2 separate regions of the Homo sapiens genome follow, and region 2 is linked to region 1. The links come from fine-mapping of genetic effects on gene expression. Tissue or cell type: whole blood. Region 1 holds a variant in brackets; the other region holds the start of a gene. All regions are shown on one strand. Distances are from middle to middle.

The links. PIP is the estimated chance that this variant, and not a neighbour inherited with it, causes the effect.
Region 2: KLF7 starts here. The variant in region 1 is fine-mapped to the expression of KLF7 in whole blood (INTERVAL, PIP 0.97).

Annotation. Positions count from the first base shown.
Region 1 is chr2:207,073,935-207,082,042 of GRCh38, reverse strand. KLF7 (KLF transcription factor 7) reads left to right here. Exons shown (of 4, transcript NM_003709.4): 4 at 779-7,906. The coding sequence ends at 830. Among named protein-coding and RNA genes, the nearest start is that of MIR2355, 32 kb to the left of the region's middle. The variant T/G (reference allele first, on the strand shown) is at 4,858.
Region 2 is chr2:207,162,029-207,170,124 of GRCh38, reverse strand. It overlaps KLF7 (KLF transcription factor 7), which reads left to right and starts at 4,177. Exons shown (of 4, transcript NM_003709.4): 1 at 4,177-4,658. The coding sequence starts at 4,557. It overlaps MIR7845 (microRNA 7845), which reads right to left and starts at 3,725; the gene lies at 3,627-3,725. RefSeq lists silencers at 2,666-2,715, 3,336-3,975 and enhancers at 2,333-3,041, 3,042-3,749, 3,750-4,458, 4,466-4,565, 5,167-5,875 and 1 more.

The DNA of each region.
Region 1 (8,108 bases):
TAGCCTCAGTTTCCTTCACCCCCCTCCTTTCTGCCCCCAACACACACACACACAAAGCGTGAGAATACTTACCATGGAGGGTTGGTGAGGATGGCGTGATATTGGGAAAACCCTTAGCATAGTGCCTACATATCGTAACATACTCAATAACTGTGAGCACCCTTCTTCATCCTTTTTTTTTTTTTTTTTTGACTTGAATATAGAGTGTCTGATAAGCCTGTAAGTAGTATCACAAGCAGTATTTCTAGGCTTTCATTGTAAAGTTTAGGGTTGAAATCTGGGTGTTGAAATTTCAAAGTTCCACCCTTTGATGATATAGACTAATTATTCTTTATTATATTTACAGTATGCAGGCATGACACAGGTTTCAAAAGCACTTTCCCATTCTTCTTTAATAATCACAATTATGATCATAACAGTTAACATGCACTGAGATCCTACGATGTGCCAGTCCGTATTCTAAGTACCTTGCATAGATCATCTCATTTAATCCTCACAACCCACCTATGAGGTAAATGCTATAATTATCCCCACTCTACTGAGGAGGAATTAAAGTACAGACAGGTTAATGTGCTCCGAGTCACACAGCTATTGGAAGAGATAGGATTTAAACCCAAACATTTTGTCCCTTAAACTTACCTTCCCAACACATGGCCCTGTTTCTCAATGCATGTGCACTGTCTCTGTTTAAAGTAAGGGAAATCATTTCCTAAGGAGTGATGCAAGTCAAGCTGTTTGCTGGGAGTTCTCTAATATCCTTGTTGTTTATATCTCCTAGGTGTTTTTCCAGGTCTGACCATCTTGCCCTCCACATGAAGAGACATATCTAAAAAACCGAAAGGCCAGAGTTGCCATGGCATCGGCTAGTGTCTAAAGGAAACGCCATGAGGCAGGGGGCTGGACTTCAGGCGGGGACCCATTGCCTCGCAGAAGAAAGTTCTCACTTATAAACCTCTGTACACACACACACACACACACACATATACACACACTCACAGACCCACACACATACACACTGTCATGCACTCAACTATATTTAAAATATATACGTCTATTCTTTATGCCTTGCCCTAGCCAGATGGAAGAAGATGAAGAAGGAAACCAGGTGAACTCAGCAAGGCAGACTGGCTGCTTACTTCAGCACTATTGGAATTATTTCCCGCTGTTGCCAATGGAAATCAAAGAAAATGGATGTGACGTCTGTGCAGGTGGACGGCAGTCCGAGGGGCTTATTTCACTTGCTTCTCAGTGCAACTTGATAGGAGAATCCAGCATCTTAAAGTTGCATATGTGTAGCACTAATGTTTCTTTTTAAATAGTTGGGGGAAAATGACCTAGAAAACCAAATTGCAGTTTGGTAGCCAAAATTAACTCTTGGTTTATTTGTCCTTTGTGTGTGAAAAGTCCTACTATTCCGTGCGTCAGACTTCCTCACAGAACTGTTGACTGGTTTTGGTTCTTAGTACTATTGAGATCTTTCGCGTCGATCCCAACGGCCTTAGCGGCGGCAGACTGGAATAACACCTTACACCTTTCTGGCCTGCATTTCTGTAGACTTCACTCTCAAGGGAGGAGTTTTCTTTTCTTACGTTTTGACTTTTGCACACCATATGCACTAGGGATTCTGGAAACTTCTAGCATGACTGCAAAGTGGCCAAGAGAATAAAGTCCTTGATGATAAATCACAGTATATCCCTTGAGCCTCACCTTATTGCCAGTGCTAGATTTTTTCTTTTTAATCTCTCCGTTTTTGCTAACGAAAACTTGAAAAGCTTATTTGGAAGCTTAAATGTTTTATCTTTTCTCCATGGACTAAACCTCTCCAGGACTCTCTCGGCACCTGGATGTCCAGCTCTCGAAGCAGCCAGTCAGATGGGACATCACAGTTCTCTCATCCTCCTTGAGGCATGATGACCTCAGCTCATAGTGATCAACCGTTGTGCTGTGTGTCATTGCTACCCCATAACCAGTTACAGCATAGATGTCGCTAGTCTCAGAGGGCAGCTGCGTATTTAATTTAACTCTGGTTTATGACCTGACAAAAAGCCAAAAATATCACTCTTTCCAGGAGTGGGGAAAACTGAGGATGCCTCCCAAGTCTAGTGGCTTCACAAAAGATCATCCTGTCTTCTCTGTCATGCCCACTGAGCTCCTATTCCCCTACGTGTTACAATACACAATTTAAAACGCCATTGTGGGAGTGAAGGGTTGACATTTAAGGAAAAGGTTGAGGTGTTTCTCTCATGGGCTGTCTAAAAGGAGAGACACGTTTCTTTCTTTCCTTTTTTTTTTGGCTAGGCCCACCATGACTTGTGACCTAGAACCCCCAGGATTAACAGAGGCCTCACATTTACTCTGCAAGCTGACTCCAAAGGAGTCTACAGTCCTTACTTGTCATGCCACACTCACACATCCAGTAGTGGTCTCTATCTACCCGCATTCCTAGCTAGCTGGCACTGGCCTCAACTCCAAAGACTGCCTTTAGGACCATCAAATGGCCTATGCAAGCAAGCGGGGTGGTTATTAGGACAGATTGTATATTTTGTATATTCTGGGACCATCCCTTCAAGACACGTCTATAAAACAAAAATGGCGCTTGGTCCACACACGGTTGCTGCTCCCTCCTACCAGCTGGCTCCCCTCCTGTCCTCCTTTGACTGTTTGACTCATTGACTGTTAAAATGCCACCCCATACATATTTGGGATGCAAAACTGAAGTCAAAAGGAAATAATATAAGAAACACAAACACATATATGACAGCAACCTTCAAGATCTGGGTTTTCAGCTTTCTGCAACCTTTGTTTTCACTGAAATGTTGAAACTACTCGTCTGAGGGCAAAGGAACCTCCTCACAAATGCTATAGCTGCCAATTGGACACTTGGGGCATTTCGAGGTCTGGCCCTAAGAATTTACTTTCTCCTTTTCCTTTTTTCTATTTAGACCAAAAAAAACAAAAACAAAAACAAAAAAAAAAACAAAATAATACAAAACGAAAAAAAAAGAAAGAACACCCGTTAACACACACGCGCACACACACACAAAATCTGTCCATTTGCCGGAGGCAATTGTATGTATGTTAGTTGGAGGGTATTAAAAATCAGTTTTATTCCAAAGATTTAAAACTAGACATGACTTAAAAACAATTTCTGGAGCACTGCTTGCTGACAATCTCGTAGTTCTCTGCTGCATTTGAGTGCATTTTGTGGCCAGTCCATCAGGGCGTACCATGGGATTATATTTGAATGTGTGGTGCATCCTTCCTGGATGAAGGATGTGTGAGGGACCTTGAACCTCAGCTGTATTAAACTGTAGCGCCTCCAGTCAGTGCACTAGATGAAACTTTTAGACACCCTGAATTCTGTTGGTTCCTTTCTTTTCCTTTATGTAGCAGCCTCCAGCATGAATGCACGCACACGCCAGTGATGGCATTAAGCCATGGCCACCACGATTTGCAAATGTTCTCTCCCAAGCTGGAGCTGCTCTTGCCTCTCGAATGCTATTATTAAGGGTTTATAATACTTAATTTAATTTTCGAACTGACCAATGCAAGGCTCTATTAAAAAGAAAGTTTAAAAAATGCAAAAGAGTAATCATTGCTTGTTTGCTCCCTATTTTCATCTGTGGTCTCATTTGAATGTGGCAGAACAAAGGCCCTTTGGTCCTCATCAGTGTCTGAAATGTTCAGTAATTTCTCTCTCTTTTGTATCAGTGAGGTCCTTTGTAATCTGCTCCTGACCTTTCTTGGAGCAGGGTGCATTGAAACTCAATGGTGGTGCTTGCTTGCTTCAGAGTCATTTGTTGACTGTGAGAATTGGCCTAAGAATTTGGTGGGTGCTAAGTGGATGGCTTTGAAACTGTTCTTCTTTAGCCGAGTTGACACCTGTGAATGATGACCAGTCCTGATCATTTTGGAAATGGATTTGTAATAAAACGTCCATCACCTCTGCAGTGGCAGAGATGGTTACTAAGAGCCGCTAGAGCGAGCAGGTTTTCCAAGAAGTAACCTGAAGACATTTTGCTCCCAAGAGGACTGGTTATTTAAAACAGTGCATTAATGGACATTTGAAACACATTAAACCCCTTTCTCATTTCAGTTGTTACCTCCTAACCCTCCAGGGGATCCCAAATTTGAAAGGAAAAACCCGGCCTGGTGTTTCTGGTGGTGTCCTAACAAGCACGCTTTTATCCAGGGTTCAGATTTGTTCATGTAGAAAAAGAGTTTCTAAGCCACTGACAATTTTTTTTTTTTGTAATTTCAAATTATACTTCTTTCTCCTGCCACATGACTGTAAGTCATAGACATGGAAACCTGAAATTATAATGCTGCTCCTAGCTACTGGCCTCCTGCCCCACCCATGGTTAATGGCTCAGCTCAATGCCTGGTGGTAATGAGTATTATGTCCAGAAAAAGAGATGTTCAGATTCCATGACAAAGCTGCATTTTTGTAAAAATATTGGAGACCCCAAAATGAACTTCATGCTGACCATTTCCTCCTCTCTGTGTGCTTTCCCTTGCAAAGCCCTTCAAATATCCTCTTCTCTCGACGCCATCTCCTCTCCACCTGCACCTCTTGTGCCCTTTGTACATCTTTGATTGCCTGATGATAACAGGGTAAAAGGACAGCCAACCTCATGCCTGATTAGCAGAACTGAATCCTAGTTTTAAAAAATCTTCTCTGGCTTCAGAGAAGATTTTATAAGGACTTTTGTTTGGGATAAGCTTTCCAGATTATCCATGTCTATTTGCATCAAAGGGGAAAGAAATGGGGCTTTTGGATGGCTCTTCCAGTGCATTCGGAACATTGCCTCTTGCCTTTATTCCTGCATTTTATGGCAAAGCCAAAAGAAACTCAAG[T/G]TGCAAGAACAAAACCCAGTGACTCGTTTTGATGGTTCAAAATGGTTTCCTTTATGGAAGTCACTTCATAAAATGTTAAGTAAAAAGTGGGAAGTGCTTCTGTCTTCTCTTTTGCATGAGTTGCTTTTAGGAGCAGGAAGAAGGTAGGCAAAGTAAGATAAAGATGCAACACATTTAACTACAAAAATCAGGTTCATTTTTTAGTTTATTAGAATTTTTTTGAAATCTTAAGAGGGCCAGCATTTCTGGCTACAATTTTGCACCCAGAACATTGCCAAAATGAACATTCAGTAAATAGAACCTGATTGAAATTTACTCCTGGAAGCTTTCCTTTGCATTTTCGGGAAGTGGCCACCTGCCAAGCGCAAGAGTTGGGGGGCAGGAGGGGAGGACTCAAATTCAGGGTGTCTGGATTAAATTTCGGTGAACATGGTGATATCTCAGTTTGAAAACTAGAGGGCCTATCCTGAGTATACATCAATGTCTCTTTGATGGCCTACTTTCCTCAGTGAGGATCTTTGGGAATACTTGAGATGGAACAACAGAAATGTGTGAAAGGAAGCAGAAACTTCTTGTAAATAACGTGACCTCCCACGACGAACTGCCTGAGGCTTCAGGGTTTTTTCTTGCTTTTAACACTCTTAAATCTCCTCTGTTGGTTCCTAATAGATCCCAGAAAAGGGAAAAATAAAGCTGCAGTTAACTTTCTTATGTGCATCCTTCCAATAGAGTACTGTATTTTTCAGGTGTTTTGCATTTAACATAAAAGTCCTCGGGAAACAGGTGTCAAAAACAGAGAGAGAAATCCTGGGCCATCACTTCACAAATATCCCAAACAAGATATTCTTTTCAAACAGGGCTCCCTCTCAGTGGTCATGAGGGAAGGTTGATAATGTTCTTTGTTGGGGACTGTTTATACAATTTTTTTTCAACTGTGAGCTTTGGAATCGTAACTTGCTGTGAGTCCAGCTTCTGTCTACTGCCATAAGATGGACCCCACGTCAGCATAATGAGGGTGGTATATATGCTCGCACCTAGACATGCGCATATGTACCTGTCGTACCTTCACGGAAGGAAAACAGGCTACTGACGTTTCGGAGGAGTAGCCACCAGTGCCTAATATCTTTTGGGGGGGATGGATGCTTATAATTGCCAGTATATCGAAACCACACTGGGAGTTCCACATAGCGGGGAGGGGTTGGGGGTGGGCAGAGGGGACATTTTAAACCTAGGCCTTTGGACTGGAGGCAGAACGATTTCTGCAAACCTAGGTCCTGAAGGCTTTGGGGCTTATTGGCTGGTTCTCAACCTTTTTGTTTTTTCTTCCCAGCATGCATTTCCTATCTAAACCCAGACTTAGTTTAATTTCCTTATCTTTCACTTCTGCTTCATTCCAGGGAGGAAAAATACACCTGTTAATGGCCAAGATCTCCTTGCTAACACAGAGGCAAAAATAAATGTCTAATGTTTTTGAAGCCTCCCCTTCCTTTCCACAAGCCCCCACCCGCCCCCGCGTCAAGCTCCTTCTCCCACTTCCTACTCCCACACAACTTCCCAGCCACTGAAACTTTTCTTTCAAATCTCTATTATCCTCTTAACAGTTGCTTGAATAAATTTATTTTTGCACTATACATTTTCTTTTTGCCAGATGTGTCTAACAAGTGTGTTTGGAGAGACCTACTCCCAGCCCCGTCTCCTTCCCCGCCTCCCCCCGTCACATTCTCTCAGGCCTTCTCTGGTATTTATAATATATCACAGAAGTACCCAGTCTTATAGCCCTCGGTTATGCCTTTTTTTGACATTTTATTTTTTTTAAGCTTTTTATATATATATATATATAAATATATTACTTTGTCAAGTTTTTTTGCTGTACAAAAGTCTTAAGATTTAAAACTATTATTTGTATTATATGATGGTGGTATGTTAATGTTACAAAATTATTAATGAAGAAAAAATTTATTTTTGTTACTGGTCTGTTTCATAATTCTTTTTTAAATTGGTATATTGTAAGATATCTATGCAAAAAATGTTATGTGACGCATTTTTATTTAAGAATGTAATATGTGTAATAAACAGTAGAATGTGTTTGGCCTTGGAATACTTTACTGTATTTCTCCTTAGCTTGTTTCACTGGGGAAAAAAATCTTCGAAAGACGCAAGTGGGTACTTACATACTTCGTGAAAGTTTTCTTTCTTGGAGAAAGGGAAAGCAAAAGGTTGTATTAGGTTATCTTCGTTTGGGAAGTTGTGTGTGTGTGTGCGTATGTGTGTATTTTATAGTTTCATTGAGGCAGCTCAATGCCCAAATAAGGGTCACTGAGTTTATTTCTTCAAGGGGAAAAAGGGAGCCAATTGTTGGAGATTATGAAAAGCAATATTTTAGAATGATAGAGATTACAAGATGTTATTTGTTTAGGGGGTTGGGAGAGGCTTATTGAAAGCGGTTTATTTGGCGAGAGAAGGAGGCAGTTTGTTCTGGGATGGTGTTTAATAGGAACCTATTGGGAAAGGATCTTTGAAGCAGTCTGTGAAGGAGGAAGGGTAAAGATCAGAGGGAATAATTTAGGTGAGGGGTAGGGGGCAGTAAAATGACAGGAGGTGGTTGGAGTGGGGAGGAAATGGGTAACCGGAAGCCAGGAAATCCAGCTGGCTGTGGAGAGTACAAAAAACTAGATGGAAATACAAGCAGCTTCAGACCCAGAGAAGAGAGGGAGATGAAAGCCCCAGGGAAAATTCTCAGAACTGAAAAGAAAAGTACTAAAATCTCTGCCACACACGACTTCCAGGAAAGAGCATCACCAGTAAGGAGGAAGGTAGAGAACCCAGCTGGTGGTGTCGCCTCAGCATCCCGAGCTCAGCGATTCCCCGAGAGAAGTGGTGTCATTCACAGGAAACAGCAGTAAAACACATTTGTCACATGGGACACAGCAGTAGTCAAGCTTTCTTTGCATTCTTTGGACTTACAGAAGTGGATACGGTGGTGAATAACCTCTATCCCTAATCAAATGAATCTGACAAGAAACTTTCCAATAAATGTTTACTTTAGAAACCGTGGCTAGTGTGACTGAATTTGCTGCATGGACACAGACATTTCTCATGTCCCTGAACAGGAAACAGGTGTCAGGAGTGTAACAGCGGGTTTGGAAGGGAAGCTGAGTGATCAAGTTCTTGCTCTCATAAAACTCAAGGTGAAGAGAACAGTAGGTGCTGCAGGGGCCGGGAAAATGGTTTTGAAGTGTTAAGCATCAGCT
Region 2 (8,096 bases), 88 kb before region 1:
AATAACTTTTTCTTTCCATTCACAGAGTGGCCAACTGTTTGGTGTAAAGGCCTAGCTTTTGGTCTATCTCGGTGTTTGATATACCTTCTTCACTAAGCTTATGTCTAGATTTTGATTTAAAGAGATATGTCACTCTTCCTTTCACTTGCACACTTAGAGGCCATAGTGGGGATATTAACTGGCCTAATTTCATTATTGTTGTGTCTTAACGAATAGGGAGGCCTGAGGAGAGGAGGGGAAGAGCCAGTCGGTGGAGTAATTAGCACGCACACACACACTAGTTAAGTTCTATGTCTTATTTGGGCACAGTTCATGGTGCCTTAAAACAATTACAATGGTAAAACCGAAATAACTGATCACAGATCACCATATCAGATATAATAACAAAAAAAGTTTGAACTATTGTGAGGATTACCAAAATGTTACACAGAGACATAAAGTGGGTACATGTTGTTGGGAAAATTGTGCTGATAAGACTTGTTCCAAGCAGGGTTGCCACAAACCTTCGATTTGTATAAAAAAGCAGTATCTGCAAGGCATAATAAAGCTATGTACAATAAAATGAGGTATGCCCATATAGGACAGAATGAATGTATTTTAATAACATTTAGTTTTATTTTCAAATAAAGTCTTAAGCAAAGCTTTCTTCACTGATTGGTCTGAAATTTGGTCCCAGCTTTAAGTAGATTTACTTTGAGGAGTACTAATCACACTGGGATAATAAAGACTTCCTACACTAATGAAGCAAAACTTTACTGGTGGAAACAGCCTGATGCCTTTAATGTGTGTATTCACATATTAAATTTTTACTATTTTATTCTTAAAATATCCTCATTTATTTCTAAGCTCCCCCCGGGTGGGGGGATAATTTATTATTTACTCTAGGGTGTTTTCTATAGGATTACTTCCAAAGATTGACATTATTAGAAGTAAAATGAACACCTCCCAAGGCAATACTTGTGGAGAAGACAGATTTTGGAGTCGATTTGGAGGCAGACCTGTATTCTAATCTGCTTTTACCCACTTACTGGACACATGGTAATGAGCAAATTACATGCACTCTCTAAACTTCAGTATCTTCATCTATAAAAATGGAGCACTAAGAGTTCCCTCACAGGATTGTGGAGATCAGAGGTATGTGTAAAATGCTAGGTACAAAGAAGGTAATCAACCAGTAAGTGGTAGTTACAACAGTGCAGTTTATTTTGGTTTGCTGAACTGCCAAAGTTCTCTTGTGATCTTAATTTGTTGATTACTTTGTACATCTGGATACCTTGCATGTGTTTTGCAATGTGAATCTTGGGTCTCTAGGGTATAAAAAGTAGCTAAATATAACTAATATTGAAAATGTGCCTTTCAGAATGCCTTGCTGCATAAATCTCTTAAAATGAATCTAAAATATTCTACAAAGCTTGGAGCAAAGACCATAATGAGGTTTGCAGTATTTGCTTTGTAAAATTTTGGTTGAGTCCTTTTGCAAGTCAGACGGCTGATAGTTACATAGGAAAAGTCTCAATGGAAGCCTCCTCCTCCGGCCCCACCCAAGCAATTTTTGTAAACACACACTGACTTAAAGCTGAGGAACCCCATTTTTCACCATACAAAGCTCAGTACAGAACAGTGTGGGGAGTCAGATGCTCTTGGATTTGAACCCCTGCTTGACCACTTCCAGGTTGTGAGACCTTGACCAACTTACTTAGTATTTCCAAGCGTGGGTATCTTCATCCATAAAGTTGGGGATACTTTGGGGCTGTCCTTAAGATTAAATGAGACATTGCATATAAAGTGTTTATGCGCATACGGCACATTCGAAGTGCTTAATAAATGGGAACTATTATTTGTAAAATCTTCAAACTCACGTTAACCGATATGTCCTATTTTATTCAAAAATTGTTATAATGTAACACACACAAAATAAGTTCACTTGAGTCTCAAGTACCAAATTATATGGTTGGTCTTGCCTCACCTTTTGCCTCTAGTTTTCTATACCCAAGTTCCTTTCCTTCCCCTATTATTCATGAACATGTTTTTTGCCCTAGTGTTTCTCAATGGTTCCTGCCCATCCCCCCAGTTGAAATAGCATGGGGGTCAGGGGAGAGCATGGAGAAGGGGAGACCTTGTAACAAACTAGCAAGGGGTTTCTACCTTTCCTCTATCTCCAAGATTCTATTAATAGTATATTCTCCTAAAGGTCCTATTAGTTTACATAGCTCAAGTGGGGAGACAATGATAGCTAATATTTAGTATTCACCTAATAGTGTCAGATACTATGCTAGGTGAGTTACCAAAGATATTTTGACTCTTCATAACAACTAGACAACGCGGATCCCACTATTTCTGTTTCTGAGATGGGTAGATACAAGTTCTGACCCAGTAATTCGCTCAAAGTCGTGCAGCTAGTTAGCTGGCAGCGTCCTTGCACATCTAATTGCAGATGCATCTGCATCTACATTAGAGTAAATGTTCCAATTATACTCATACAATGAATGCTATGAATCTGGCCAACAGAATTCCAGACACTAACAAGTAAATAAATCAGGCTTTCCTCAATCCCAGTAATTCATGTTTAATATTCCTTGGCAAATACTGAATTTCAATCTGTGCTTATTTCATAGAGTAGAATCTTTCAAATGTTGTGTTATCGAGTCCTACATAGTCAAAGGGAGGGGAAAGACAAGGAGGGTGATTAAGGTGAAGCGTTTCTTCCATTACTGGTAGAACGAAGTTTCTCATCTCTTAAGCACCGAATTCTGCAATCATTCCAAAAGTGGAAGCTCAGCTCACAGCGCATTTTGGGGAAGCTTAAACCACACTAACCATTTAAGGTCAAGCAAACAATTGGCCAACCCTAACGTGAATTGTGCAGGGTTTTCATCTCAGATGTAACAGATCTCTCTATGTCTACATCCCAACTCCAGAAAACGAGAAATCGAGTTCCTCCTCTCACCATCGAAGCTCTGCAGACACCTCGCTGGAGACCCCATGGTGAGCCTCATCACGTAAAGGCCCCCTCGCAAGCTGCCGGCTCCAGCTTGCGCCCCACGTCTACCTAGGCTCCCTCTAGCCTCTTTAACGCACAGTCGAGCAACAGGCCCCTTGCAATCAACTCTAGCCGCCGGACTCCCGACCAGGTCTCTCGCTCGGGGTCAGAAGGAGGCGCGGGAGGGAGGGCGGCGGCGGCGGCGCCCGCGGGGCGGGGCGGGGACTGTGCGCAAGCGGGGGGCGGGCGCAGGCCGCGGTCTCGCTCCGCTCCCCTTTGTTCTCTCCCATTGTGTGGCACTTCCTCCTCAGGCGCTTCTTCTCTGCACCCTGGCAGCCCGTGGGGAGTTCGGGAAGGGGCCCTGGATGCCTTTTCTGCTTGTTTTTGAGTACGTGAGGACCTCCCCGGCACCGCCTCGCGCGGGTCCCTGCCCCGTGCCCAGGCGGAGGCGGGGTGGCCACTGTCCTTCCTTCCCGCTCCGCGCCCTCGGCGGCTTCCCCGCGGCCCCCTGCGCCGCGCCCCCTCCAGGAGGCGTCCTGACCCCGCACTCCGGCCTTTCACCTCCCGACCGTCAGCCTCAGGGCCGCCGCGGCGACGCGCGACCCCTTCCCTCTGAGGGGCGCGGGCTCCGGACGCGCCGGGCTCTGCCAGGCATCTAGTGGAGGGTCGGAGGTCGGCGACCAGCCCGAGCCCAGCCGTCCCGGGAGCTGGCGCGAGTGTCGCCACGACCCTCCCTGTCCCTTGCGCTCGCGCTGCCCGGCCGCCGGGCGGCCGCCTCAGCCCCCTTATATAGCCCTCTAAAAATAGCTCGCCTCGCACCGCCTTGTAAGGCAGCAGGGAGATCCGCAGCGTGCCAATCCGCGCCCGCCGCCAGGGCCAAGCCCCGCCCCAGGCTCTGCTCCGGGCTCCCCATTGGTCCTCAGTGACTTCATGAGCCCCCTGTTTACCTTACATGGTCACACGCGGCCTAATGGACGCCCTCCTCGAGATCCCACGGCTGCGCGGAGAACCGAACGGAGGGAGGGAGTTTGGGGAGGGGGAAGAGCAGGAGGAGGAGAAAAGGGAGGGGGAAGACTACAAACTAGCAAGGATGGGGTGGGGGGTGGGGAGGGAAGGGAAGGGGGGGGAAGAGAAGCGATCGCGAGAGAAAAAAATGCAACCTCCCAAAATAAAGAGCAAAGATTGCATTAGGAGCGAACAGCGCTGCAGAAATAGATGGCAGCTTCGTGTCAGTGAGTTTGCATCCCCCTTCCTGATCCACGAGCTGGAGTGATTAGAGCCCTGGAAGGGAATTGTTACTCCCGTGGAGAAGTCCCCTTTTCCTGGCAGTCGTCTGCACTGTACACGCTGGATGCCTCTCTCCATCCACCCCACTCACTCGCTCCTCTCTCACCTCCTCTCTCCCTCTCCTGCATTGATTTTTTTTTTTCCTTTTTAGTTGACTGAAACAAAACAAAACAAAAGGGCCACTGGATGTCTGCCTTCTTGGGGGGTGAGCCAGACAGACTGACAAACAAACAGCCCCAACTGTGTTCGGGGGAGGGTTTCGCCTCCCGTTTTGCCCGGCAGCAGCAGCATGGACGTGTTGGCTAGTTATAGTATATTCCAGGAGCTACAACTTGTCCACGACACCGGCTACTTCTCAGCTTTACCATCCCTGGAGGAGACCTGGCAGCAGGTGAATGATTTAAATTACTTGTGTAAATCGTGTGGTGGCGGCGGAGACGCAGGGGCTGCGTTGGTGTGGGCTCTGGGTTGAAATTTTTGTTTGTTTGTTTGACTTTTTTTTCTTCCTTTTTGGCTGTCTGTTGTTGAAAATGTTTTCTGAAACAGTCATCTGCGCTTACCTCTCCACCCACCCCTAACCTCGTAGAGTGCCGAGCTGAGCAGCCGGTGCGAGCTGCCTGCGTTTCAGTCGCCAACACACATCCCTGCGCACACGTTGTCGGGTTTGCTGTCCCCTATCAGAGACCTGCCGAACTTCTGGGGTTCGGAGGAGCCGGGTGGGAAGGTGGTTTGGGGTGTTAGGAGCGATTGCTGACAGGGACCACGTTCTCGCATGCATGAGCTCTACCCACTTGATACCTGAAATCAGGTTCATCTGTTTCAACTGGTGCTTATGACCATCGGATGGGGGGCGGGGGAGGGTGGGCAGGAGCAAAGCGGAGTGTTTTTCAGTAATTAGCGAGTGTCAATAAAGAATAGGAGCTTGATTTTGAGATTAGAAGGTAGGCAAAAGAGAGAAGAGCCCACTGACAAAAGATACTCAAGGAGGACGGGAAGATGTAGCTGAGGCTGACAATGAATTGTAGGTTTTCCCAGTGTGATCCCTCCAGAAAGAGAACACCCTCTATGCGTGTCCTTGTTTCTCTTTTTTGTTTAGGGTCCTTCTCTAGTTAGGCAGCACAACCTCGGACAAAGGCTGATGTGTGCTTCCATGCCTTTGACTTTGTCTTAGAGGACTAGTTAAGAAACTCCCAGGATGCTGAAGGGCACCGATGCCAAGTTGGCTAGCCGTCCCAGGGAGGATGAAGTGGGGCTGGTGACAAGTTCACTGGGCTTTGTGAAGTGGAATAAAGAAAGTGCTGGTCAGTGGAAAGTGCTGGCTCTGCTGCGGAAACAGTGGTTTTTTTCAGCAGCGATTAGGAGCTGCTGAGGGGACATTCTGCAGGAAAGATGGTGGGTGGGGGCGGGGGGACACGGGTATTTAAAAATTGTACAGTGTGCACCATGGAAAGTCCAAGAAGACAGTCCGGATTTGCACATAGGAAGTGTGAACTTGTACAGTCCGTCCTGGAGAAACCCGCTTGCCCTTGGGGGGAGGGCTGTGAGAGGCTCGGTGTGTGGCTGCTCGTGTAATTTCTTCGCTTAGTGACAGCAGCTTGTTAAGGCTAATGAACGGCTGAATTTCCTCTGCCGGGATCCAAAGCAGGATTTGCCAGCTTGAGGCTGAGATGTAACAGTCTCTGCTTTAGCAAAAGAGGTTTGGCTTTTGGTATAAGGAGCCGAGTGGCAAGGCGGATCCTTTAACTGTACCATTGTTGCTAGTTCACTTCTGGTCAGAGGCTGTGAGTTTTCCTCCAGGTATTGGCGTCTGGTGTCTCTGTGTCCACACATGCATTCTTGTCCAAGGACGCTAGCAGATGCTTGACTCTGTCTCTCTGTAAACACATACACAGTTCACATATTTTTAGAATAAAGTCTTTCTTCAATGCATCCTTTTCCTTATCCTTAACGAGAGTGTGTCTCATGAAGGGTCTCACTGGATCTTTTTCTTCCTTTTATTTCCAATGCTAATTAAACCAAAATCTTCTGAAATAGCCTTCATTTCACACTGTCAGCCCACTGGTATGGAATCGGTTGCATATTAACAACTGTCTAGACAGGTTAGAGAAGGGAATCTGTTGATTTAGTCAGCCTGCCCAAGGCAGCCCTTGTTTGTGACTAACTGTTAAGCAGTGTTAGAAGGAAGAAAGTTGGCTTTATTTGTTAGAACGTTCCCTACTGATGAATCATGCAACTTTGTTTTGGTTCAAGTTTTCAGAGTAGTAAAGCCAGATTTGGAGGAAGGTCTCTTCACAGGAAACCTGCTTTTCTAGATCTGGCTAGACCATCCAGGACAAACTCTAGATCTGCAAAGAAACATCATCGGTTTGACAACTAGAGGATGTATTAGATCTATTGTTTCCTAAGAAGCCATCTCTGCTCTTCCTTCTCCCCTCCTCCCCCTGCTCCTCTGCCTCCTCCCCATTCAGGGAAGCTCTAGTTTAGTTTCTACAGGCAAAGGATTTTTCACCCCTCGGAACCCCCTCATTTTTTGCCTTAACCCTCTCCAACTGCCAGCCACTCTCACCTTAAAACCCTTAGCCAACTTATTCAGCGTCATGCTTATAGCCAATGCTGATGCATAGCTTGTGGGGAAGCACTAATAAACAATATATCACTCCAGTGAGCTTTATGTTCTGGACTCCGTAATCACAACTGCTCTATATAAAGGCGACTAGGACCATAGGTTTACACTGATGACAAAACCTTTAACCTCTAGCCCTTCCTTCTTCCCCCTCCCAAAACCGTCTTGCTGCTTCTGAGTATAAGGGGTGGTGATGGTGATATGCAACTGTTAGTTCCAAATCAACTATCGGATAATGAAATTTTGAGACTCTTTTGCTCAAAACAGCTCAACAGGGTTTCTGCAAAGAACCCCAGACAGGAAGAAGTTTCTTTATGCTCTGGGGTAATCAGATTTTAGAGGTCAAATGAGGAGTAATTATTAGATGTTCTTCTTAAAGTGAACAATGTACCTGGGCTCATGGAGATGAGCAAAATGTGGAGACTCTGATAATCTGACTTGGTTTCTAGAGAAAGAGTGGCTTCGATGATAAACTCAAGAACATTTTTACGTTTGAAAATTGAAGATAAACAATTTGGGGATTTTATTTTAAACTTAGGATATGGGATAATTGTCCTGCTTAATAGTCAGTGAGCCTGTGACAAAGTCACTGACTGTGGCAGGGCTCCCTCTCGTCACGGAGATCCTCGTTTTGACATTGGATTTTCTGGCAATGATGCCTTAGCCACATAGCTCCAAGTCTGAAAATAATCGTTGCTGGTATAATTCTGAAATCCAAATGGACATCACACATTAACAGCTCTCCATTCCTGGGCTCTGACTGCATACTTAAGCACTCGGCCCAAGTAACATCATCTTTCTGCCTGTCATATAACTGTAAATTACACTGTGCTTATGTGGTCTATTATTTTATAGAATTCAGCTGACGCGCAATTCTTAAGACTACCAGCCTTAAGCGCTTTGAAAACTTGTAGGAAAATTTCCAAGAGCTGTCTGAGCAAAAGTAGGAAAAGGTCAAGGGTAGGACAGAAACCAGAGTTTCTTATGGGGTACCACTTGATTATGAGTAAAGGGAAACTCATTCATGACTTTTTTTGCCAATAGAAATCATAATCTTTTTTTTTAGACACACTGCTGACTTGGAAAATAAAAAGAATTTGATACAATGCTTTTATTTTCTTCTTGAATATACAAAGACTTTTAGAACTTTTATATGTTTTATCTCTAGTCTGCTATTTCATGAGTGCAGGTCAAGCAGTGATGATC